Homo sapiens: one gene and its partners. The protein of the gene in region 1 interacts with the protein of each later gene in a biochemical or structural test. Each region holds a gene or a part of one and is shown on either strand. Other genes may lie near its edges. The genes, in order: SNCA, ENC1, MEF2D, PLD1, KIAA1191, MAP1B and PREP.

Evidence for each region.
Region 2: the proteins of SNCA (region 1) and ENC1 interact in a test that uses a peptide from one of them, tested with the Homo sapiens proteins (one large-scale study listed by BioGRID).
Region 3: the proteins of SNCA (region 1) and MEF2D form a complex in vitro, tested with the Homo sapiens proteins (one study listed by BioGRID).
Region 4: the proteins of SNCA (region 1) and PLD1 form a complex in vitro, tested with the Homo sapiens proteins (one study listed by BioGRID).
Region 5: the proteins of SNCA (region 1) and KIAA1191 form a complex in vitro, tested with the Homo sapiens proteins (one study listed by BioGRID).
Region 6: the proteins of SNCA (region 1) and MAP1B form a complex in vitro, tested with the Homo sapiens proteins (one study listed by BioGRID).
Region 7: the proteins of SNCA (region 1) and PREP form a complex in vitro, tested with the Homo sapiens proteins (one study listed by BioGRID).

Annotation. Positions count from the first base shown.
Region 1 is NC_000004.12:89,823,662-89,827,161, reverse strand, and holds part of SNCA (alpha-synuclein), read left to right. Parts: intron 1-3,500. UniProt on the Homo sapiens protein: Neuronal protein that plays several roles in synaptic activity such as regulation of synaptic vesicle trafficking and subsequent neurotransmitter release.
Region 2 is NC_000005.10:74,634,229-74,637,728, forward strand, and holds part of ENC1 (ectoderm-neural cortex protein 1), read right to left. Parts: intron 3,474-3,500; exon of another isoform or gene 3,266-3,473; intron 2,271-3,265; 5' UTR 2,258-2,270; coding exon 488-2,257; 3' UTR 456-487; intron 1-455. UniProt on the Homo sapiens protein: Actin-binding protein involved in the regulation of neuronal process formation and in differentiation of neural crest cells.
Region 3 is NC_000001.11:156,494,276-156,497,775, forward strand, and holds part of MEF2D (myocyte-specific enhancer factor 2D), read right to left. Parts: exon of another isoform or gene 1,652-3,500; intron 1,487-1,651; exon of another isoform or gene 878-1,486; intron 1-877. UniProt on the Homo sapiens protein: Transcriptional activator which binds specifically to the MEF2 element, 5'-YTA[AT](4)TAR-3', found in numerous muscle-specific, growth factor- and stress-induced genes.
Region 4 is NC_000003.12:171,684,984-171,688,483, reverse strand, and holds part of PLD1 (phospholipase D1), read left to right. Parts: intron 1-899; coding exon 900-1,113; intron 1,114-1,685; coding exon 1,686-1,799; intron 1,800-3,500. UniProt on the Homo sapiens protein: Function as phospholipase selective for phosphatidylcholine. Implicated as a critical step in numerous cellular pathways, including signal transduction, membrane trafficking, and the regulation of mitosis.
Region 5 is NC_000005.10:176,348,664-176,351,764, forward strand, and holds part of KIAA1191 (putative monooxygenase p33MONOX), read right to left. Parts: intron 2,075-3,101; coding exon 1,950-2,074; intron 1-1,949. UniProt on the Homo sapiens protein: Potential NADPH-dependent oxidoreductase. May be involved in the regulation of neuronal survival, differentiation and axonal outgrowth.
Region 6 is NC_000005.10:72,113,975-72,117,474, reverse strand, and holds part of MAP1B (microtubule-associated protein 1B), read right to left. Parts: intron 1,778-3,500; coding exon 1,676-1,777; intron 1-1,675. UniProt on the Homo sapiens protein: Facilitates tyrosination of alpha-tubulin in neuronal microtubules. Phosphorylated MAP1B is required for proper microtubule dynamics and plays a role in the cytoskeletal changes that accompany neuronal differentiation and neurite extension.
Region 7 is NC_000006.12:105,281,083-105,284,582, forward strand, and holds part of PREP (prolyl endopeptidase), read right to left. Parts: intron 1,501-3,500; coding exon 1,369-1,500; intron 821-1,368; coding exon 664-820; exon of another isoform or gene 1-663. UniProt on the Homo sapiens protein: Cleaves peptide bonds on the C-terminal side of prolyl residues within peptides that are up to approximately 30 amino acids long.

The DNA of each region.
Region 1 (3,500 bases):
TGTGTTTTTTGCAAGATTCTTCACCTCTGTGTGATTTAGCTTCCTCATCTATAAAATAATTCAGTGAATTAATGTACACAAAACATCTGGAAAACAAAAGCAAACAATATGTATTTTATAAGTGTTACTTATAGTTTTATAGTGAACTTTCTTGTGCAACATTTTTACAACTAGTGGAGAAAAATATTTCTTTAAATGAATACTTTTGATTTAAAAATCAGAGTGTAAAAATAAAACAGACTCCTTTGAAACTAGTTCTGTTAGAAGTTAATTGTGCACCTTTAATGGGCTCTGTTGCAATCCAACAGAGAAGTAGTTAAGTAAGTGGACTATGATGCCTTCTAGGGACCTCCTATAAATATGATATTGTGAAGCATGATTATAATAAGAACTAGATAACAGACAGGTGGAGACTCCACTATCTGAAGACGGTCAACCTAGATGAATGGTGTTCCATTTAGTAGTTGAGGAAGAACCCATGAGGTTTAGAAAGCAGACAAGCATGTGGCAAGTTCTGGAGTCAGTGGTAAAAATTAAAGAACCCAACTATTACTGTCACCTGATGATCTAATGGAGACTGTGGAGATGGGCTGCATTTTTTTAGTCTTTTCCAGAATGCCAAAATGTAAACACATATCTGTGTGTGTGTGTGTGTGTGTGTGTGTGTGCGTGTGTGTGAGAGAGAGAGAGAGACTGAAGTTTGTACAATTAGACATTTTATAAAATGTTTTCTGAAGGACAGTGGCTCACAATCTTAAGTTTCTAACATTGTACAATGTTGGGAGACTTTGTATACTTTATTTTCTCTTTAGCGTATTAAGGAATCTGAGATGTCCTACAGTAAAGAAATTTGCATTACATAGTTAAAATCAGGGTTATTCAAACTTTTTGATTATTGAAAACTTTCTTCATTAGTTACTAGGGTTGAATGAAACTAGTGTTCCACAGAAAACTATGGGAAATGTTGCTAGGCAGTAAGGACATGGTGATTTCAGCATGTGCAATATTTACAGCGATTGCACCCATGGACCACCCTGGCAGTAGTGAAATAACCAAAAATGCTGTCATAACTAGTATGGCTATGAGAAACACATTGGGATAAATCGGCTGCTATCATAATCATTCCTCTCCCACATCAGATAAATGAATTAACTTTTTGAATAGGGTTATTTAATATAAAGTGCTTAAGTCTAATTATGAGAAGAAATAAGATAATTACACTTCAATGGTTAAAGAGAGGGAGAATAATTTGCATATTATGCCTGATGTAAAATGTTTATTATGGGTACATATTAAGTGCTAACTAATTGTTAATTGTTCTTGCTACAAGTCTTAATGCAGGGAAACAAGAAATTATTACATAGTACCTAATATTATCTTCTAATATTAAAGAAACAATTTCCCCTAAATTCATCCCATTAGCTTTTTTTTTTTCGGTGGGGCAGGGGAGAAATACAGACTTCAGTAAACTTGGGCTGGGAACTTTCTACCTACAAAGTTCAAATAAAATAAATTATCCTAGTTAGATAATATCAATGAAAAATCCACCAACTTAAATCCTGGCTGTTTGATCTCAGGAAATTATTTCAGTTATCAACTTAATGCATCATATTATAGAAATATATGAAAATGTGTTTAATTAAACTTACTGAATGATATGTTTTTTCAGGTACTTTAAAAATAAACTATGATATAAAGTTACCTATTTTTCATGCAAGTATAGTATAAAGAAATTTCTAACACTGGAGATTTTCTGAAGGTTTTGATTCTTATAAATTTATTACATCATAATGAACAAAACTAATTTTCAACATATTATGATTTAAATTTCCTTAGTAAATTGTTTCAAATTTATTTTCTTTAAATCCATATTTACATATGTATATTTAAATATACATATTTACTTGTATAACAATTCAAAACCATATATTAATTTTATAATTTTGTTTAATGTCAAAGGTTAGATTTGGCTATATCTATTCTAAAAGTTGGTATCACATTTCCTTTTTGGAATTTTATTTTTAAAGTAGCTAAAGTCAAATATAAACCTATTATTTATATTAATGCAGACATTAGAGGTAGACACTAAATTCATTTTAGTATATTCTAAATTATTTATTATCTACTATGAAATAATATAAAGAAAAATAAAGCAGAATCCCTGATTTCAAAGAACTCAATTGCCGAAAAACAGTTACCATTTATTAGACCCAAAATGTACTAATATGAGTGTGTCTCTTTTCCTTTTGTTTTGTCACCCGTCATTTGGAATGTCAGTGAGTAGAGAGATAGTGTGAAAGGCCCTCAAGGGGAAAAATAGAGGTTAAAGGTCAGCAGAGACCCTACTAGAGAAATCAGTTCTACAGAAATGTTTTTAAATGTGTCGATTATTGCTACATGTACACTCTGTCATTTTGTAATGTAGCCATTTTATTTATGATTATAATAATAAAACAACAAAATTATAATAATGTGTAGAGTACATTTTACTGTGCAGTGTATTGCATTAAAACTAGATTAAAATTTATACATATATAAAAGGCTATCTAGATATTATAAAATTTATGGCTGGATCTGTAAAAAATTCAAAACCTATTTTTAATCTCGCTTTGAGATTTTATAACAAGAAAATGTTCGTTTCAAGCAAAATTTTCAATTCACGTCCTTGAAAAGGAAAAAAATGACAACTTGAAACACATAATTGACTATTTTTAAAGGATCAACATTTCAGAAATGTTTTAAAACATAAGATTTTCAGTACAGCTTTTCGCTGGCATTTAAATCGAACTTTGAATTGTAAATAGCTCTTGCTCTTAAGGAGACATCAGCCATATCCTTAGAAGTGGCACGGAGTTGTTAGGTAGTTGTACAAAATTCTAGCCTAAAAGACAAATAGGGAGCAACACTACTGTGGACCGTTTCTGGTCTTGGGCTGTGTGGCTATGTCAGGCTTGCCCACATTGCCTGTACTAAGGAGAAAGCCTCTTGTCCTTACAGACCCCCTTAGCTTACATAGTCTATTTGAAAACAAATTGCTTTGTCCACACCATTTAAATATTGGCTTCAGGCCAGGCGCGGTGGCTCACGCCTGTTATCCCAGCACTTTGGGAGGCTGAGGCGGGCAGATCACGAGGTCAGGAGATCGAGACCATCCTGGCTAACACGGTGAAACCCTGTCTCTACTAAAAATATAAAAAAATTAGCCGGGTGTGGTGGCGCGCACCTGTAGTCCCAGCTGCTGGGGAGGCTGAGGCAGGAGAATGGCCTGAACCCGGGAGTCGGAGTTTGCAGTGAGCCGACATCGTGCCACTGCACTCCAGCCTGGGTGACAGAGCAAGACTCCGTCTCAAAATAAATAAATAAATAAATAAATAAGTAAATATTGGCTTCTTCAACTGGTGAGATGAAACCTATACAATAGTCATGTGAATAGCACTAAACAGCTGACATGGTGTAACTCCTCTCAGACTGAGGCTTATCTGGGGAGTACAAAGCATGTC
Region 2 (3,500 bases), on another chromosome or scaffold:
TGGTGAAACCCCGTCTCTACTAAAAATACAAAAAATTAGCTAGGCCTGGTGGTGGGCGCCTGTATCCCAGCTATTCGGGAGGCTGAGGCAGGAGAATGGTGTGAACCCAGGAGGCGGAGCTTGCAGTGAGCCAAGATCATGCCACTGCACTCTAGCCTGGGTGACAGAGCGAGACTCTGTCTCAAATAATAATAATAATAATAAAATAAATAAAAAGCTCTTCAGGAGATTCTGAGGCTCAGTAAAAGCTGAGAACCACTGGCTAATGCCATGGTGGGGGCTGAGGCTGTGGTCAACACAAGTGGATAAGTTCTAGGGGCACCAGCTCTCTTATTTTTACAGCTTTGGTAGTACTTCTGCAGTACAGTCTCTGTGGATCAGATCTCACCCCATGTACTGAACTTACACAATAGCCTAATTATATGCATACTTACATCTATAGCTAAACTTCTTACCTCATGCTCACTCTCTTTAGAATGTACTGCATTTAAGAAGGCAGATGTTTCCAGGTGCTGACAAATGCAGTAGGAATCAGCGAGTACGGGACAGTGGTGATGCTGTTCCACACGTCTAATGTTGGATCGTAGCAGTCCAAAGTCTTGCATCGCTGAATGCCAAAGTATCCTCCAACCACGTAGAGTTTGTTTCCAGAGGCCACAGCATGGCAGCTCATGCGCTTTGCTGTCACATCTCCCACCTTGGTCCACTGGTAAGTCTCACTGTTGAATTTATAAGCAGAGCAGGCAGAGAATTCTGTATCACCCCCCATAATAAAAATCTGGTTCCCCAGCACAGCTGCTGCTGTGTAACGCCAGGGCTGGGGACAGGTGGCCGGTACAGTCCACCTGTTTTCACACTGATCGTAACACTGAACTTTGGGGAGCTTGTCATGACTGACACTGGTACCTCCGAAAGCAAATAACTTAAGTTTGGCACTCACTACTGCGGCGTTGCTAACGCCTTCTCGGAGTGGGGCCACCATGGTCCATTTGTTGATTGTGGGGTCATAATGTTCTACCTGCTTTAGAGAGACTGAGGGGGAGGCCGGGAGGCAGCCAGTTGCGGCCGTGTGCCCCCCAACCACATACAGGCAGTGCTTCAGTTCAGCAGAGCCATGGCCAAACCTGGCCACCAGCATGGGGGCAGCCTTGGACCACTCCTCGTGCAGGGTATCATAAACCCAGACATCTTTTGAGACCCCATTTTCAGACCCCCGCCCCCCAGTAATGTACACTTTGCAGCCAATCGCACATGCACTAAACTCTTTTCTTGGGCTGGGAATGTCAGCCTTGGGAATGATTTCTTTGGCCTTCTGGTCTACCAGATACAACTTGTCACACATGAAAGTCTGTCCTCCCAGAAGGAAGAGGGCATGGCCAGTTTTCCGAGGTCGGGCACAGAGGCTGGTTACCACACCGTCATTCTGCAGGATTTTCAGTTTGCACCTGATGGCCTCTTCCACAATTTCCTTACTCTTTCTCTGCTTGGTGATGAGTTCCTCCATGGCCACATTCTCCATGAGATAGATGGCTGGCAGAAGTGCCAGCCTTACTGTCTGCAACAGTTCTGGGAGGTAGCAATAGCGCTTCTTCAGGTCATAGCTGATCCAGTTAATTGCAGACTCGTACACAAGCCTTTCATCCTCTGTCTCCAGCTCTTCACTGGACAAGAGTTGCACTACCATGTCCTGGGGCAGCTGGAGGAAATCTTCATTCTTCCTGATGGTTTGGAAGTTGCTGAGACACATTCTCCAAGATAGTTCGTACAGCTTGGTGCACTGGTGTGCATCAGACAGCAGCAGCATGCCCAGGCAGTTGGTGGGATGCAGGTTCTTTTCCAGGAACTCTGCACATGCATCCCGGATGTCTTGAAACTCCAGCATGTCACCAGCTTCCAGGAGCGATTCTGCATTTTCTTCATTGATGATGACCCGGGAGGAGTACGCATAGTCAAGCAGCAGCTCCAAGACTTCTGGGTGGATGGAATTGTCAAAGTTGACCTCACTGTCCTGGCTCTCTTTCAGGCCACCACTGAACATGGCCTCAAAGTAGCGACTGCATGCAGCCAGCACTGCCCGGTGGCAAGGGAAGGTCCTATTTCCGGCATGGAGAAGGACGTCAGTGAAGAGACGCTGCTGGCGTAAAAGATTCAGGTGAGTGAGGACGCTGTCAGCGTAGGAGGACTTGTGAAACAGATAGATGTTAATGGAGCCGCTGCTGGCCCTGGACTTGCGGTTCTCATGCACACTGACTGACATTTTGTTTCCACTCCTAAAAATAATAATAATAATAAATTGAAAATGATGCTCCTGATGTTCAGAACAGCAGAACGAAAGCAACAATGGTTTTGCACAAAAAACAGAACACTTTGTTGTTGACCATGCCACCTACTATTCTAGAATAGTGTATGGCCATTCCAGGACAAAGCCAGAGACAACTACCCGGAAGGAAGGATATTCACTGCTAATACTGTTGAGCTATTTGAACTCTGCACTGTTTAAAAAAAAAAAAAAAATCACTGCATAAAAAGCAGGTTCATCTTGGAAAACCTGATTGCCAACTTTCAGGCCATCGAAGTCTTTTAGAATATAAGTCAGCAAAAGCCAAGAGGAGTGAGTCTCATTCCCACAGCTCCCTGTCCTAGTCCAGCTCATTCACTGCGGGCCACTTAAAATGCCAGGTCTCCTGCTCTTATAATGCCAGGATGGGCACTGGCTTTCATGCCCCATGCAACATAAAGCCATGCGTAAAACAAACACCTAATAATTAATTCCATTAAGAATTCCTTTGGTAAGATCCAATCTCCCAGCACATACAGTAAATGGGAAATGTAAGGCCAACTTCTGCAATGATCAGACCTTTATTTAAATGTTACAGATAATGTATTTCATTTTATATATACTTTTGAGACCAAGTCTCGCTCTGTCACCCTGGCTTGAGTGCAGTGGTGCAATCACAGTTCACTGCAGCCTCGAACTCCTGGACTTAAGTGATCCTCCTGCCTTGGCCTTCCGAGTAGCTGGCACTAAAGGTGTGCACCACCAAACCCAGATAATTTTTTGTATTTTTTGTAGAGACCGGGTCTCAAACTCCTGGCCTCACCTGATCCTCCCACCTCGGCATCCCAACTTAAAGATTAATTTCTAACCAGACAGCTCTACCACTGAAGAGTCCTAAAAGCACCCCAATTTCAACATTAACCATATATTGATCAGCAAGCCTTTAGTCAAAGCACAGAATAAATTCTGGCCATAATCACCAACTACCTGTCTTGCTCGGGACAGCTTCCAATGTGAGGATTTGGCACATAAAAAGAAGAATATTTTGAGTAGCATACTTATGACTGCTGTTTTCTGTTCTTCCCGCTTTATATCAATTCTTGGAAAACCAGCTGCAAGAACAAAAGATCCATCCGTCTTTTGATTAAATAGTGCATCACTAGGACTGTTCCTGTATACCTGCAAATGCTGACACCTGCATAGAAGGAGTTCAAAATGCAAA
Region 3 (3,500 bases), on another chromosome or scaffold:
GCCTGCCGTGCATTTCTACTTGAAACTCAGGGATGGGCTCTCCCCGTATTCTTTGTTCTCTCAACCCTCAACCCTAGGTATTTGCTGGTGGGCTGAGGATGAGAGAATCACGAGGGATAAGCAAGCATGCAGCCAGAGGGATCTGGCAAGACTCGTGGGGCTAAGTGTGGAGGAGGCAGGTTCTGAGACAAGGAGACGGCTGGATGGGGAGGGGAGGGCTGGGCTCAGCTTCCCAACCCATCCCAGGGCCAAACGGAGCCCTAGGCCAGGAGGAACCCTCAAGGCCTCCTCAATCCCTACCCTGGACACCAAAGGCATTCCTTGCCCCCACCCCTGCTTCTGGGTAGCTGCCTTAGCAGGCCAGTCCTGGGCCAGGCTGGGGCTGAAGGTCTGAGAGAAAAGATGCAACCATCACACTTTTTCTGGCGGAAACTCCTTCCCTTCCCATGTGAGGCAGGTAGCACCACCTCCCTTTCACAGGTATGGAAACTCACACAGAGATGGGCAGGGACTTCCTCAAGGTCACCAGAAATAAGGGGCAGAGGCAGACTGACTGTTGGGCACAGGGCTTCTGCTTACAACCTGGATGGGAGTGGGAGGGAGTCTCCCTCCACCGGGGAGTTCTAGCACATTCCTTCCAGGGCCCATTCCCCAGGTCTGGGCCTGGGAGGCTCACATTGGCCTTGTGTCTGCCTTGAGACAAGCCCAGCCTCTTGTGGTCCAAGCCTTCCCACTCTAGTGTCTCTTCTCATTCATCCCATGCGGCAGCTCACAGGGACAGCAGGAGGGGTCTCGGAGTGTCATTTGTTCCTGCCCTCACACCCTTGCTTTGGGGGCTTTCTCCATGACACTCAAGTCAAAACAATACCCTCCTCACCTTGCCACCAAAGGCTGATTCTCTGCCCTCTGCTGAGGAATCCTGGTTTTCTCTTCCCTTCAATTTCTCCTCCTCCTCTCAGGTCTCCGTGGGCCTCCTTTCCATTGCCCCGTCCTGCAGGGCAGGATCTCTCCTTTAATCTCAGACAAAAGCCCTTTATACTTCATAACTAGGAAAGCTTAAAAGTCACTTACATCTCTGAGACTCAGTTTCCCAATTCAAAAAAACAGTTTTAGAGAGAAACAGTCTTCTTATATTCCCATGCTCAGTACAAAGCTTGGCACACAGGAACATAAGAAATGGAAGTTTCCTTCCTCCCTTTTGAGAACCCATCACCTCTCTTCATTGGGATCTCAAAAGTTTTGGTTTTTGGGCGGGGCACGATGGCTCACACCTGGAGTCCCAGCTACCTGGAAGGCTGAGGCCGGAGGATCGCTTGAATGGGAGGCTGCAGTGAGCCATGATGGCACCACTGCACTCGAGCCTGGACAACAGAGCAAGATCCTACCTCAAAAAAAATTAAAAAGTTGTGGTTTTTGGTCTTCAAAGTATACTGGAAAGTTGGGCAAGAGGGGTAATGCTGAGGGTAAAGCTCCTTTGACCAGGGGGCAAAAAAAAAAAAAAAAGCTCCCTCTGCATGGTTTCCTCGTCTGCTCAGCTCCTAGGAGAGTGGCCACAGCATCCAGCCAGAGGCACCAAGCCAAGGTCAGTGACCAGGCCTAGAGCCCAGAGCCTCCTGGGAGGGTAAGTTTAAATGAGTAAATATGGTCCCACCTGGGTGTGGCCAGCGACAGGCCAGAGCTTCGGACATGTCCCTCCCCTCCCAGCCTACAGCAGAAAGAAAAGAAGTCAGACAGGCACAAGTGCCTCCCGCCCCCTTGGCTATCAGGGTCCTGTGCAGAATCAATGAATGCATTCCCCTGTCTCCACACCAGCCAGGACTAACCAGAAGCATAACTTGGCTCTCAGGAAAGAGAGGCTTGTAGCCTCAGCCTCAGGAAAAGGAAAATGTCAGATGAAGAGGGCCTTGGGGATCACCTAGGCCAAGGATCTACCCCCAGATGCCTGATGGCTTAGATGTAGTCTTGATGCCTCACAGTGGCCTTGCTCATCAGGGTGAGCGGGGAGGGCAACAGAGACCAGCGACAAACCACCAAAACACCCAGGTGTTAATCACCGAAAGGCGAAACTCTGTACATCTGGAAAGCTGGGGCCCAAGAGGAGGGACCCGGGGACACACGGTCAGTGTGAGGGGCAGAGGCAGGCTGTGCCAGGAACACAGAGAGGGGCACGTGGGGGAGGGGTAAGGGGCAGGGATGGAAGTCAGCCAAGGCTCCTTGACTCACAAGCCATGCTCTTTATTTTGCAGACAGGGCTCTGCCTGCCCATCTGTGGTCTAACCTTAATCCCTCCTGCTCCAGTCAGCCCTTCTCTCTTCAAAGTTCTTGCTATGCCCTTCGCCTTCTTGCCTCCGGTCCCCTCAACCCCATCCCAACTCTCCAATCCTTTAATCATCTTTGCCATTCACTACCCCCCACCTCCCGCAGTGCAGCAGCTGCTCTGTGGGTGTCTACATACCAGTGTGTATGTGTTGCACACTTTCCTGCATGTGTACCACTAAATGCTGTGGACTGCATTGGGCATGCCTGTCTACATGAGACCCTTATCTAGCTCCCACTACTGGGGGAAAGGGGCCTAATGGCTATTTCTCCCACAGCTCCAGGACAAACGCCTCAGAATACTTTCAGCCATAAGCAGGGAGAGGAAAAAGAAGATAAATATTCCGAGATCCAAATAGCACCGACCCCACCAAGCCAAAGGTCAAGGCCTTTCCTTTCGGGAGAGCCACTGGAAAAGAAAGTGCTTTGAGTTCCCCTCCTTTCCTATGCAAAATTAGAGCCATCTCTCTCCCCCCCAGCTTCCCCACTGGGAAGTTCTTCCTGAAGTCTAAGCTCCATCCTACCTGCTGTGATCATGGATAGACAGAGTGACATCGACCACAATACAGTCAGACGTCCAGCTTCTAGAACACAGCTTCTAGTACCTAACCGCCCCTCCCTCCATGAGTAAGTCACCAAACTGGGACAGAAGGACAGACAGTTGGCCGGACTCCGGCCCCATGACTGGCTCATAAAAGCCACCAGCAATTACAGTGATGCTGAGGTTGTGCCGGCCTGCCACCATTTCCTCCTTCTCTATAAAAAAGAGATAGTTGCCTCAAACCAGCTGGCCTGAGAGAGCCTCGAGAGTCCCAGCCATGGTCCCGTGGGATGGGGAGAATCCCAGCACCACAGTGCCATGAGACTCAGAACCTGACCCTTGATGATGGGTTCCAGGCTCACATCGGATCCTCATACCCACTTATAGAACCTGATGAACACCAACGATGACCTGTGTCCAAGAGGTCAAGGCCTGTATTAAGTCAAGGCCCTCAACTCCTCTTTTCCAGTAAGGCCACCACTCTCTCGACTAGAGGGGCAAAGAAGCAGGGGGCCTGACTCAAATAGAACTAGGGAAATGTTGGGCCCACCCACTTGCTCCTGGACTTCCCTTGTCCCCATAAAGGTACTCAGGTGTGTGGCAAAGTGTCCAACCAAGGGCCCACACCAGGCCAGCGTAAGTC
Region 4 (3,500 bases), on another chromosome or scaffold:
GCATTGCTGAGTCTGTTCTTCTCTTGTAAGAAAAGAAAACAGATTCAGTGGAATTTTGGCTGTCCCATATTCAGCTTTGTTTTCCATTTTAATTAAGATTTATTTTTTATTCAGAAATAAGATTCATAAACAAAAATATGTGGCAATTGAGATTTAGGTAGTAAAAAGCCTTAAGTATCTGCCACAGTTTTTGGAAAGTTCCTACTTAAAGATATACAAAAACAGGATAGGTCAGTCTGGGGTCATTTAGAGGGAATTTGAGCCAGAAGTGAATAACTTCCCAAAGTGCCTTTTAAATAGAGCTGCCAAAATATCTGTATGTGTATATCAATCTGCTTGCTATTTCAACTAAATGGCTGCCAGAATATGAATACACTTATTAAAAAAAGTGTATATCAATCTGCTTGCTATTTCAACTAAATGGCTGCCAGAATATGAATACACTTATTAAAAAATTTGATGGGCTTCATCTTATTTACTGCTGGAAAATAGTGCAAAACTTATGCAAAAATAGCAATTTAGTGCATAAGGAACAGGGAAAATGATTGACAGAGGAAGCCTTGCTTACTTAATGTTTATTAGAGGAACAAGTTCAGGAGCTCAACACTGAATGTAACCCATGTAATTGTATTTGAGATTAAAAGTTTAATTGGAGTGAAATTTCAAGAATTTGGCCTACTGAAAAAAGACCATAGCAGAACTCCTCATATTCCTTTGGTAGTTTTTAAACAGTTCACAAGAATCCACCACTACCCTGTGGCTGACCTCAGACATTATTGCATGTCTGTTATAGAACCTCCATCATTTGTAAACTTTATACTTCAGCTCTACTTGAATTAAAGAACCACACTGCAGCATGTCTTATGCAGTGTCTTTTTTTAAAAAAAAATTTTTCTCAGCCTGCCGCAATGGAGTCTATGGAATCCTTAAGACTCAAAGATAAAAATGAGCCTGTTCAAAACCTACCCATCCAGAAGAGTATTGATGATGTGGATTCAAAACTGAAAGGAATAGGAAAGCCAAGAAAGTTCTCCAAATTTAGTCTCTACAAGCAGCTCCACAGGCACCACCTGCACGACGCAGATAGCATCAGCAGCATTGACAGCACCTCCAGTAAGTCATGGCCTTGACTAGAATTTATCTTAACTACCCACTGTTCTTCCATAGCCAGACACTACATACCTGTTTTTAAAATCTGTCTTTCTGTAATGGAGTAGAATGAGCAATGTTGAGAGGTCGCTATATCATTCTATTCAACCTCATGCCATTTGGTGGCTTTGTTTGCCTCATTTTAGAACAGATTTATTGTTTTATCCACACAAAAGTCATAACGACCACGATTACCACTTCTAATGGTAGCAGAATGACAAAGGGTTTCTAAAATATGCCAAGCCATAAAAGAAAAAGGTATTAGATGTACTTTATAAACTTTTCTTAGAAGAAATTACATTTATCTTCCTATCCAGAAATATATCAAGCTTATTTCGTCAAACATCAGACTTTCTACATCTTGTAAATTTACTATTCCTTTGAAATCCATCTTAAAGCCCTACAATTTTCTGTTGCACAGAATCTTAAGACTGATGTTATAGCCCTGCCTGGTTTTAAAAATGATCAGCTTTGCTTTCCAGTTTAGAAAATTTGATATTTGTATTTTTTTGTAAAAAAATTCTTAATTTCTCTAGGTTATTTTAATCACTATAGAAGTCATCACAATTTAATCCATGGTTTAAAACCCCACTTCAAACTCTTTCACCCGTCCAGTGAGTCTGAGCAAGGACTCACTAGACCTCATGCTGGTAAGTAATTTGTGAAGTGGCAGAACTCCCTTAGGCTTGAGCTTTGGTTGTGTTGTCTGCTGCATGGGCATAGTGAATGTGTTTCCAGATTGGCTTTCTGTTTGCAATTTTTATGCTACGTATATTATTGAGAGCCTGCTCTGTGCAAAGCATTCTGTAGTATCCAAGATCCCTACTCCCTAAGAACTTATAGCAGCAAAGACAAAACAGACCTAATAAGAGAAAATGCATGGCACATGCAATTCAATAGTGTCATGGAAGTTCTATGGAAGGAGGGAGGAATTCCTCTCTGATGATGCAGAAAGACTTTTTGAGGAGGGGACATTTGGGTTAGGCCTGGAAGTAATTTAATTGGGGTAGGTGATAGGAAGTCATTGCAAGTGAGGGAGGTGAGTTGAGCAAAGGTGCTGGAATGGGAAAGCACCAACTGCTTTCAAATTGTGTAAAATGCATTATTTAGCTAAAATGCAGTTTTTGATATAAGACTAAGAAGATATATGACATTCACATTTGGGAGCTGGAATTTTATTTGGTTAAAAATCTTTTTTTTTTTTTTTTTTTGAGATAGAGTCTTGCTCTGTCACCCAGGCTGCAGTGCAGTAGGGCCGTCTTGGCTCACTGCACCCTCCGCCTCCCAGGTTTTAGCGATTCTCCTGCCTCAGCTCAGCCTCCTGAGTAGCTGGGATTATAGGCGTGCATGACCGTGCCTGGCTAATTTTTGTACTTTTAGTAGAAATGGGGTTTTGCCATGTTGGCCAGGCTTGTGTTGAACCCCTGACCTCAAGTGATCCGTCTGCCTTGGCCTCCGAAAGTGCTGGGATTACAGGTGTGAGCCACCGCTCCTGGCCAGTTAAAAATCTTGAAGGCCTTTGGGTGGATGTGTCATGCTGTGTGAATTTTCAGAAATTACAATCTGATAGCCTTTGGTAAGAAGATACTCCAGATACTCGAGGAATTAATGAATGACTAATAAGTTTAACTTGTGGTGGGAATAAAGAAGGATTTGGCCGCTGGTCAGATATGGGGATAAGTAATCATCATAATAAATGACACTAGTAAGATCATAAGCTAACATTTATTTTGCACAGACTCTATCCATCACTGCCCTGAGTAGTTGCAGTGCTTGGTAGTGATATTGTCATCTCCTTTTTACAGATGAAGAAACTCAGGGTTAGAGATGATACATGACCTGCCCAATGGAGTTCCAATTTATCATCCTCCCAGTGCCCATAATTAAGACCTGTGATTTAGCAGAAATAAAGATTACTATGTTATGCTTTTTTGGCTAGAACCTAAGGCCAGGGCTCTCATGTCCTGTTTAGCAGATGAGAGTTACAGTCTAGCTCACATGCCTGAATGTGAGTCACCTGTGGCTTGCAGGTGCTAATGAACCTGAAAAATTATGCTAGACTTTGAGTAATGATTCCCAGCATTCTTTCATCTAGGGCAGGGGTGTCCAATCTTTTGGCTTCCGTGGACCACATTGGAAGAAGAATTGTCTTGGGCCACACATAAAATATACTAACACTAATGATAGCTGATGAGCTAAAAAAAGTTGCAAAAAAAAATTACAATGTTTAAGAAAGTTTGTGAATTCGTGTTGGGCCACATTCAAAGCCATCCCGGGCCGCATGTGGCCCACAGGCTGTGGGTTGGACAAGCTTGGTCCAGCTACGCTGCATTTTAAAAAATGCAATAATC
Region 5 (3,101 bases), on another chromosome or scaffold:
AAGAGCCAGAACGCTAGCTGCCAGCCTTCTTGGCCTTTTAAGCAGGGCTTAAGCTCTTGTCTCGCTGCTGCTCCTACCATGTACAAAGCCCTGCCCATCCTCAGTCTCTCCAAGCCAATACTCAGGCATGCTGCTTCTCTCCAGCTAAATGCTTCCTCTGAGGAGCCTGTTCCATTCTCTCCTCCTTCTCTCCCATAGTCAGCCACTCTGGGTTCCCTCAGCACCGTGAGCATTCCTCTGACTCGCAGTCTAGTGGGGAGAGACAGGTCTACATCTCAGCTCTTCTAGAGCAAGGTTCCCATGCTGTTTCCTCCCTCCAGGCCTGCCACGCCACTGCTTAACCCAAGCTGCACACCAAACAATGATCACGTTTGAATTTTCTCAAACGCTCAACAGATCCATTCATGTAAGTTGACAATCTGTTACAAGATGTAAGTTACAGCTAATATTTCAGCCATCCTCATGTTCTACTCCTATGGGCAAGACACAGAAAGTGGGTCAACCAAAGTCAATCCTACCATTATATAAGGTGAATTGCTCAAATAGAATTCTCACTGACCTATCCTGGAAAGTTCTCAGTTAAGGGTCAAAGGCTGCCGGTGCCCCTCTCTGGAAGCTTCTGTCTTGTTTGAAAGCTTAAACTGGCCACCAGCCCAAACCTGATTTCCTATAGCAGTTTTTAAACCTAGCCTGCAAAAGAATCATCTGGAATGCTCATTACAAAATGCAAACAGGGCCGGGTGCGGTGGCTCATACATGTAATCCCAGCACTTTGGGAGGCCAAGGCAGGTGGATCACATGAAGTCAGGAGTTCAAGACCAGCCTGGCCAACATGGTGAAATCCCATCTCTACTAAAAATCAGCTGGGCATGGTGGCGCATGCCTGTAAATCCTAGCTATTTGGGAGGCTGAGTTGGGAGGATCACTTGAACCCGGGAGGCAGAGGTTGCAGTGAGCCGAGATCACAACACTGTACTCCAGCCTGGGTGACTGCAAACAGGCCACAGTTTTATATCCACAGTTTTATATCCCCACCCACAGGCCACCAGATCCGGGTTATTCCTCGTTATGTATAATGTATACCATGATTCTTTCCTGCGTCGTGTGCTCTCCTCACCTTGCCCTCATCATACCCTGTTCAGAACTCTTAAAATAAAGCTTGGAACAAGCCTGGATTCTGACCCCCCCTTGCCTAAAGAAGACAGCCCAAGTTTCTTAACTGTAATTGTGTCTCTTCACAATCTGCCCCTGACTTCCATATGAGCCCCTTCAGGAGCCAGATTTCCAGGCTGCTTTGGAATGAGGAGGAAGAAGCCAACAGGAAGTAAGGCATCAGGAGACTTGGGTTCGGGTACTATGACTGGCTGAATAGATGGCCTCGAACCTCAATCTCCTCATTTACAAAATATGGAGAAGAGCATCTGTCCCAAAAGGTGATTGTGAGGATGAAATGAATGCAAGTGCTTCACAATCATAAAACACTATCCAGTATGAAGCGGTCTTCACTGAAAGAAAGTCATTTGAAACTATTCATTCAAATACTTGGCTATCACTAAATTAACCCTTACCAAAATTCTTCACTTATAGAAATGAAATAGCAAAAACATTCCAATTCCACATTTGATTTTAACTTGTTCCTTTCCAGTTAAGCTGTTACCTCTGTTGAGGCTGCCCAGTTCTCCCCAAGATACTCCACATTTGCTTTATGATTCATAAAGTACTCCTATGTATATGTAAGCTGAGGCTCTCACTTGATTCTGCTAACCAGAAGTAGCAAAACAGACACCCCACTGTATAGGTGGATAAGCAAAAACTACGAGGCTAAGAGCTCGGGAGCGAGACTAACTCCACAGCCCCCAACTAACTGAGCTGGTAACTTCAAAACCACAGCCACATTTCAAGCCATGAACACTGAAGGTTTTGTTTTTTCAAAGTTCCTAAGAGCTTACGTGGAGTGCTTCGGCCACTCGAAGGTACTTGGTCTCCTCGGTGGTGAGGCCCTTGTGGGGTGTGTAGCCAGCATCTCTCAGCCCTGCCTGTCGCTCAAAATGCTGAATGCTTTCCTGGGTCTGTTCTGGGAACAGAGGAGATGACAGTCATGCCCATTCCCCTCTCCCATCACAAAATAAGGAGGACAACATGGATATCTACTATTCTCCCCAGAAGCAAGAGACCACACTGACCATTCAAAGAAGAGGAGACTTTCCCCAGAGAGGCACCACAGCAGTAATTCTGAACCTCACACAAAGGCTCTCTAGCCAGAAGGAAGCCTTCCCTCACACCAAGCTGAAGAGGTTATTCCTAAAGGGACAGCTGAAGAACCTTGAGGACAATACTCCCACCCTCCTCTTAGTTGTACATGGTGACATTTTCTTTGTATTTAGAAATGCAACATGGGGCTGGATGCAGTAGCTCACACCTGTAATCCCAGCACTTTGGGAGGTCAAGGCGGGCGGATCAAGAGGTCAGGACATCCAGACCATCCTGGCTAACAAGGTGAAACCCCATCTCTACTAAAAATACAAAAATTAGCTGGGTGTGGTGGCAGGCGCCTGTAGTCCCAGCTACTCGGGAGTCTGAGGCAGGAGAATGGCGTGAACCCGGGAGGCGGAGCTTGCAGTGAGTCGAGATCGTGCCACTGCACTCCAGCCTGGGCGACAGAGCAAGACTCCATCTCAAAAAAAAAAAAAAAGTTACATTGTGCTAAAAGAACAATGAATAAGTTTTGTAACACTGCTAGAACACATTCTCAAGCTTGTAAAATAAAAGTAGTGTTGCTGATTCAACAGATGTGAATAAGAAAATCAAAGTATAGGTGGTGCGTGATGGCTCACACCTGTAATCCCAGCACTTTGGTTGGCCTAGGCGGGCAGATCACGAGGTCAGGAGTTTGAGACCATCCTGCCCAACAGAGTGAAACCCCATCTCTACTAAAAATACAGAAATTAGCCAGGCGTGGTGGTGGGCGCCTGTAGTCCCAGCTACTCCAGAGGCTGAGGTGGGAGAATTGCTTGAACCTGGGAGGCGAAGGTTGTGGTGAGCTGAGACCACAGCATTGCACTCCAGCCTGGGTGACAGAGTGAGACTCTGTCTCAAAACAA
Region 6 (3,500 bases), on another chromosome or scaffold:
AAGTCAGTCCAAATATGAATGAACACAATGAGAACCACATGACTTGTACACACAAAAAAAGAAGTCTTACAAACAATCATAGTAAAAAAGCCAGAACAACCTACAGAGAAAAAATAAAAGCTTGTAGTTTTTACATTTTGAAATAATCATACTTTTTGGAAAACAGCACTTCCCTCATTTTTTTTGTGAGATGGTTTTAAAAGATACGGAGATATCGCAAGACAAAAATACAATAAAATAACAACAAGAGAAACAACCTTATACTGTACCTTTCCTTCAGCAAATCATATGCTGTCTGACAGTCTCTGGATTCCTTTTTTCTCAAAGCAAAGTTACTTAAAAACTGATTTTTCATGTGGCTTTGCAGGAAGTTAACTTTTAATAAACCATTTCTTGCTAAGCTTTTCTTAGCACATTTACTCAATTCCATACTTGAAAGCTACAATGCATTTCAATAACTGAAATGTATGGGATTTTATTCTAATATTAAACTCAAAAGGAAGAACTGAGACAGTCCTATGGGCATATTACTGCAGCCAAATGTGATTCACGAAGGCACTGATATTCTATAAAAGTGATTTCAAATATCAATGTATATACACGACTAATGGAATATGACCTAACCAGTCAAAATAGGCTGAATCTCATTCCTGATGTTATATCAATGCCAATAAAATTAGGAATCATATAACAAAAGCATATGGGCAGAAAATAGCTTTCTCTTATGTAAAATTCAAGTGATGGTCAAGAAATAAGATGTAATACAGTGTTTCTGATGGGTCAATGGCAAAGGTCTGGAGAAATATATTCCAGGTTTGGAGTCTTTATGGGCCAGAAACTGTCTCATAATTCCTAAATGTGACCAAATGGGAGGAATATAGGTTATTGCTCACAAGAAGAAGACGAGATGGGTCAGTATGAATACATCTCCAGCGCCAGAGGCATGGGTCAGATCATAGCCCCAGGAAGGTGGCTGGTTAGTGGGAACATCTTCACATATGACAAATTTTTGCATCCTTACCTTTAATTATTCTTTGATATTCTTTTTCATCTCTGAAAAAAAGGCTATTTTAACAGAAGTTTGTAATATCAGATTCTTTTACCCACACGAAGAAAGATAAGTGGTAATGCAATGGCGGGTGATAATGCAATTATGAAATGATGATGTATATTTCATTTTGAAATGCAGTATATGTTTCCTTTTTCTTTTGCAGGAAGACAGTTCTGGGATCCTAGGAGCATCCAATTTGTATTCAGAATTTCATTTGAGTAAGATTAACATTTAAATAGTTTGTAGTCCCTTGAGCTCAGAGTACAGTGAGATACACATACACACACTATACTATCTCTCTCTCTTTCTCTCTCTCTCTTTCTCAAGCCCTGGATATCAATTCAAAATTTGTGTGATCATTGATGTGTGTGTGTGTATATATATACACATACACAACCCTAGAACTTAAAAACTCATTAAGAATCCACAAAATAGATAACCCACACAGTGATAACCTAGAGTGACTTCCTAAACTGTGGCTGCTGGCTAACCTAGTTGATAATAACAAATACAAAGTATCCTTTTAGCAATAAGAGAGTCTTTTTGCTGCCTCAGACAAAGCTTTCTAGCTTGCTCCTTGTCCTTTGGAATTCTAGGCTGACCAACACTGAGCGGAAGCCTCACCTGGGACTTCAGGAGAGAATCTTGCAGAGTGTCGAGATACAAAAAGTTTGAGTTCTTGGTCCAAGTTGCATTCAATCAGGTTTGTGTCCCATGATCGGATTCCTAGGGAGGGAAAGAAAGACAGTTGAGAGACTTCCAGTTAGTCATTTCAGAGTGGTTTGGACAACATCACTGTAATATTTCTCAGGCTTTCAGGGAGGATGTGGGAACTCCTTTTCTGAAGAGCTTGGTGGCTTAGCAGTGGATGCCCACAAAATGGGAGGGCCAGGGAGGTCTCTCCACCAGGCCACAAGGGAGGGATAATTAGCAGTGTGGACTGAGCTTCTGCCCCTCATAAAAAGTAAATGCACCTCTTCTGGAAGAGTCAAAGAAAACAGTTGTTAGGAAAATGACAGGCTGTACTCCAGGGAGGGACTAGAAAGGGCAGGAAGATGTTAGTTCTTAAGAAGCTAAGAGGCCAACAGACTAACTCTAGCTTGTAGACAGACTAACTCCACTTGTAGGTGGCAAGAAAATGTAGAATAAAGGCAAAGAAAATACACGGGGGCTGCCATTCAAGCACGGGCCTTTGTTTCTAAAATGATGTTCTGGTAGTATACATGTGTAATTTCTTTCCTTTACCAATCCCGTTTTTGACTTTGGTTTATCGAGCCCTGGATATCAATCCAAGATTTATGTGATCTTTGATAAACAGAGTGGATCCACTCAATCTTCAAGACTTGGCCTGTCTGTCCTTCCAGGCACTTTTCTGTTACCTGAGTAGCTTGGCAGGCAGCTCTTTTATTCACAATTGTTCATTGTATTCAATTTTCTTATCCAGAGGCAAAGAAAAATGGCAACTTTTTATACTTTATAAAACATTTATGGAGTTGGGGACATGAATCAGCTATTCCTACCCTAGGCTGAACGGAAAGGAAGTCCTATCAGACTTCCTTTCCCTAGGCTGAAAGGAATATCCAGGGTGAGAGGAACAGGAGGGCAAGAGGCGGGATGAGGGCAGCTTCCTGTGCTCATGCCCTACTCTCTAGCCTCTTCCTTCCTCCTCCCACTGTCCTCTTTCTCCTGCCCTCCCAAAGGGGATGGCCCAGAGGGAACCCCAGAGAGCATCATAGAAGGGAGGTCTGGAGAGTAAGCCAGGGAAAGTTGGGGAACCCCAGAACTCTGGTGTGTGTGTGTGTTTTACATGTTTACATATTATATATTACATTTTTCCTAATAGGTTGCTCATGGTGGAGCCAGTGTGTGGTATCCATCATTGTACCTTTGTATACAGCATTCTCAATTGCCAGGAACAAATCTCTAGAACAACAGACATTTATTGCATACCTCCTAAAGGTAAGGGCTTGAACCTCTAGGTATAACACAGCAGGTGAACTATCTCTAAATTAACACCCAGTCATGTAATCATTTTTGTTGGACATTAGTCATGTATACAGACTTGAAGGAATAAATAGCAGTGTGTTACTTAAATACACACTGGATCCTTAAGGCATATTTGTATTTACCCTTGGTTATATTGTATTCAGTCTTCCTATCCTGTAAAGAATCAAGGTGGATTATACATAGACATTACAAAAAAAAAAGATTCTGGAAACTCAGTTCACTGCACATCTAAAATATCTTTAGATTACACACCACAGACCTTTTCAACCAGGAGGAATATTTTCAAATAGATGTGTGTCCACTAAATACAGGCAGAAATTTCTCATATGATCAATGGGAAGAATTCAGATGTGGAAGAGTTAACGTGCTTAAGGAAAGGTCAAATTATAAGGGAGAATTTTATGGCTCTTCCTGGAAACATTAATAGCCTCAGTTTGCATTT
Region 7 (3,500 bases), on another chromosome or scaffold:
TGCTCTGGGTCTTCCAAGGTCAAAGAAGGTCAAAGTCAAGGTGTTGGCTGGTTGGACTCTTACGGGGAAACTCTGGAAAAAACCTACTTGCAGTCTCGGGATGTTGGCAGAATTTAGTTTTGTGCGGCTGTGGGACTTAGGTCCTGTTTCCTTGATGGCTATTGGTTGGGGGTTGCTCTCAGGTTCTAGAGGTCCCCCTTCCTCCATTGTCAAAACCAGCAATGGCAGGCTGAATCCTTTACAAGCTTCCAATTTCTCTGACCTCCCTTTCTGCTGCATCCCTGACTCCAGCCAGAGAATGTGCTCAGCCTTTAAGGGTTTATGTGATTTGGGACCCCTCAAGAGATAATCCAAAGAGCAGCAGATGAATATCCTGCTCCCTGACAGCAAGCAGTATCTAGGTAAGTGTTTGAATAACCAGGGTAGGAATCTTGGGAGGCCATCTGTAGAATTCTGCCCTACCACATTTTTTGTAGTTTGTTGCTTTTGTTCAAGACCATATTAAATCAAGAAAGACAAGTAGGTAGTCCCATCTCCTCTCCAGCAGATTATATGCAAATGCAAGACCCTGACAGTGACAAAGCTCAAGCACTAATCCTGCTGTGACTGTGTTCAACTTTATATCAAACCACTAACAACATATATATGTCAATAAAACCTTACTTGACAAGCCATTCAAAGTGTTGTTTGCTGTCCGAGCACCCATAATCAGTGGTCCAAGCATGGCCGATGGTATATTTATGAAACTTCAGCATGTCCATTACTCCAACTTGGGCAATAACACAACCAAAGAGGTCAGGTCTCTGATTTGCACAAGCAGCTAAAAGCCCAACGTAGAAAGAAAAGGGAGGCAGTCTATCATTAAACATCTACATAAACAAGGCAAGGCAATACTTACTTACATGCTTCCAGAGCCCTGGTTGCATTTATCCAGAGCACAAGAGGAAACCATCAGAAATCACCTGCCCAATAGCCCCAAAGCTCCCCACCCACTCTGAGATCTGTCAGAGGGGGTGGGGATTCTCATCAGTAATGGAGCTTTACTCCCCAAAGTGAATCTTGAAAAGCTTGAGGACTTTCTGGAAACCCTGTATCCCCTCCTCCCATCCCCACTTGCTTTCACAGTGATGAGGGAGATTAAGGGACTTGTTCAAGATCTCAGGACCTGCCCAAGGCAAAATAAATAGGGTCTCTTCGTATGTCATTTATCAGATACCCAAATACAAATGGTACAAATGGGTTTTGCTCTCCTTATACCACTTTGTGGTCCTATCCACAAAGTTAAGTCAAGAGCTGCCTACAGATGGTGTATCTGAAAACCCCAAGAGGGCTAACTAGTAAGTGCAATGAATAAAATCCAGTACTCACCCACTAAGAGGCCTCCATTTGAACCTCCATTAATAGTCAGCCTCTTGGGAGATGTGTAACCTTCCTTGATCAGATACTCAGCAGCACACTGAAAGTCATCAAAGCAGTTTTGTTTGTTGGCCAAGATACCACCTACAGTGTGCCAAAGTGGAAGATAGTTAATTAACAAAACATAAAAATAAGTTTAATCTAATGGGAATTCAAATGATAGAGCACGGTTTCAAATACTGATTAACTTAAAAACCATGGGTTAACACTGCATTTAAAAAAAAGCCTCAATTTAAGTTCTGTTATGCACTGTGGAAATATATCATCAATACCACAATGCTAATCCATATGGTGGATCTGTATTTTTCTAAAAGCCTCTAGAACTTAAACGGGAAATGCCCCAAAGGGAACAGATGGTCGGTTATGAGAGATGTATGATAATGAAAGGATAGAAGCATGGCATCACAAGGAACCTGTATTTTGGGAAGCTGAACTTACAAATATAAAGCAAGACCTGCAGCAGTGTTTAGTCCTCTAGGTTGCACCCAGCACCCGAGCCGGAGCTGGCTGTGGGAGTGCTCGTGTCTCCCCTCCCCGCGAAGACGGAGGTGGAAGCGCTCTGCAGAGGCACGCTTCCCACCCCACCTCTGCAGGAGTCTGACATGGTCGGTGATGGGGAGAAAGAAATTCCCCAGTCTTGCCCTCGGTTATTAATGGAAAGAACAAAAGGAATTGGGTGGTGAGGTAGCGTTGCGGCAGAGCATCACATTATGTTTTCTCAATTCCAGAATGAAAGATCTTCAACGTTTCCCCAGAGAATCTGGGCTTTATCATCTGCAAATCGTTCCAGTGTATTAAACCAAACAAATTACTTGGAGAAACATTTACAGGGCCATGAAATATCTATAAGTAAAGGCCAAAAGTCAAAAGCATGTCCTCAAAGGAACAGATGTCTGAAATAACGGCCTTTGAAATGAACAAAGAGCAGACACAGATCTAATTAGATACTTGAGATTAACCACTTCTGCTGAAATTTAATTAAAGATAAAGCAGTCCTACTGAAATGTTTTTCATATCAAAACAAATGTTATTAAGATTTCAGTAAGAAATTACCAGTGAATTTAGAACAGCTAGGATTACTTAGTTACTAGGAATAACAATATTTTGGGTATATGACTACATTTTAAAAAGAGCATTAAATTTTAAAGTCAATTAACAGAATGGAATTTAGATTTACCAGTGTATCATATCCTAGGCTATAACTGGAAAAGGTCTATTTCTGGTCCTTTCATCATGGCCTAAATTTTGAGGAAGTTTATAAATCAGTCTAAACATAGTCTACTGTTAGCCTTAGTCAATCTTGAACCTGCCTAATCCCAAGACTGGAAAATAACTTGGTTCTAACTAATAAAAAATGAGAGAGCAGACTAGGACCAAATTACTCTTCCCTCTCAGAGCATGGTGGACATCTGATGACCAGAGGGGTTTTCTGGAGAATAATCCAGTTATTTCAGGAGAGGATCCCAGGATCAGGGGACCATGAGTAGGGGGTATGGTGCATAAACTACATACAATTTAAATAGGAAATCAGGTGAGTCAAGGGGTTCAGAATTAGCATACATATTTGGGATCAAACATATGGTATACAGAAATTTTATCCTCTTATCACTCATCTTTTAATATCAGTTTCACAGTATGATTTTAGTGTAAACTCTAATATCAGCTCAAAATTATGCAATGAATTCTTTGCAGTTTCAAAGACAGTCACAATCAGTAGTTTCTGGGGATGATAACTGGCAACGATGGACCAGATGGCCGGCCAGGGGCACTCACTTTCACTAAGGTGCACTTGAGGAGTCTGCTGTCAGCCCCTGGGGTGCATGCTGGATGCCCGGGGGTCATTTCTAAGCCTTTCCTGCATATGGTACCTAACAGGTACTTAATGGAAATCTCTTTACAACAGGTTTACCCTCATGTTCGCTGATTTGATTTGATGCAAAAAAAATCCAGAGCCTCAGGCCTCTGGTTTGGGATGGCATGGGAAACAGAAGAGAGGTACAGATATCTTAAGGGTGGTCTCTGATGCTGAGGAGACCCCTCTCACCTGGAGCTGCTGACCAGCCCCAAGCACTGGGGTCCTGGTA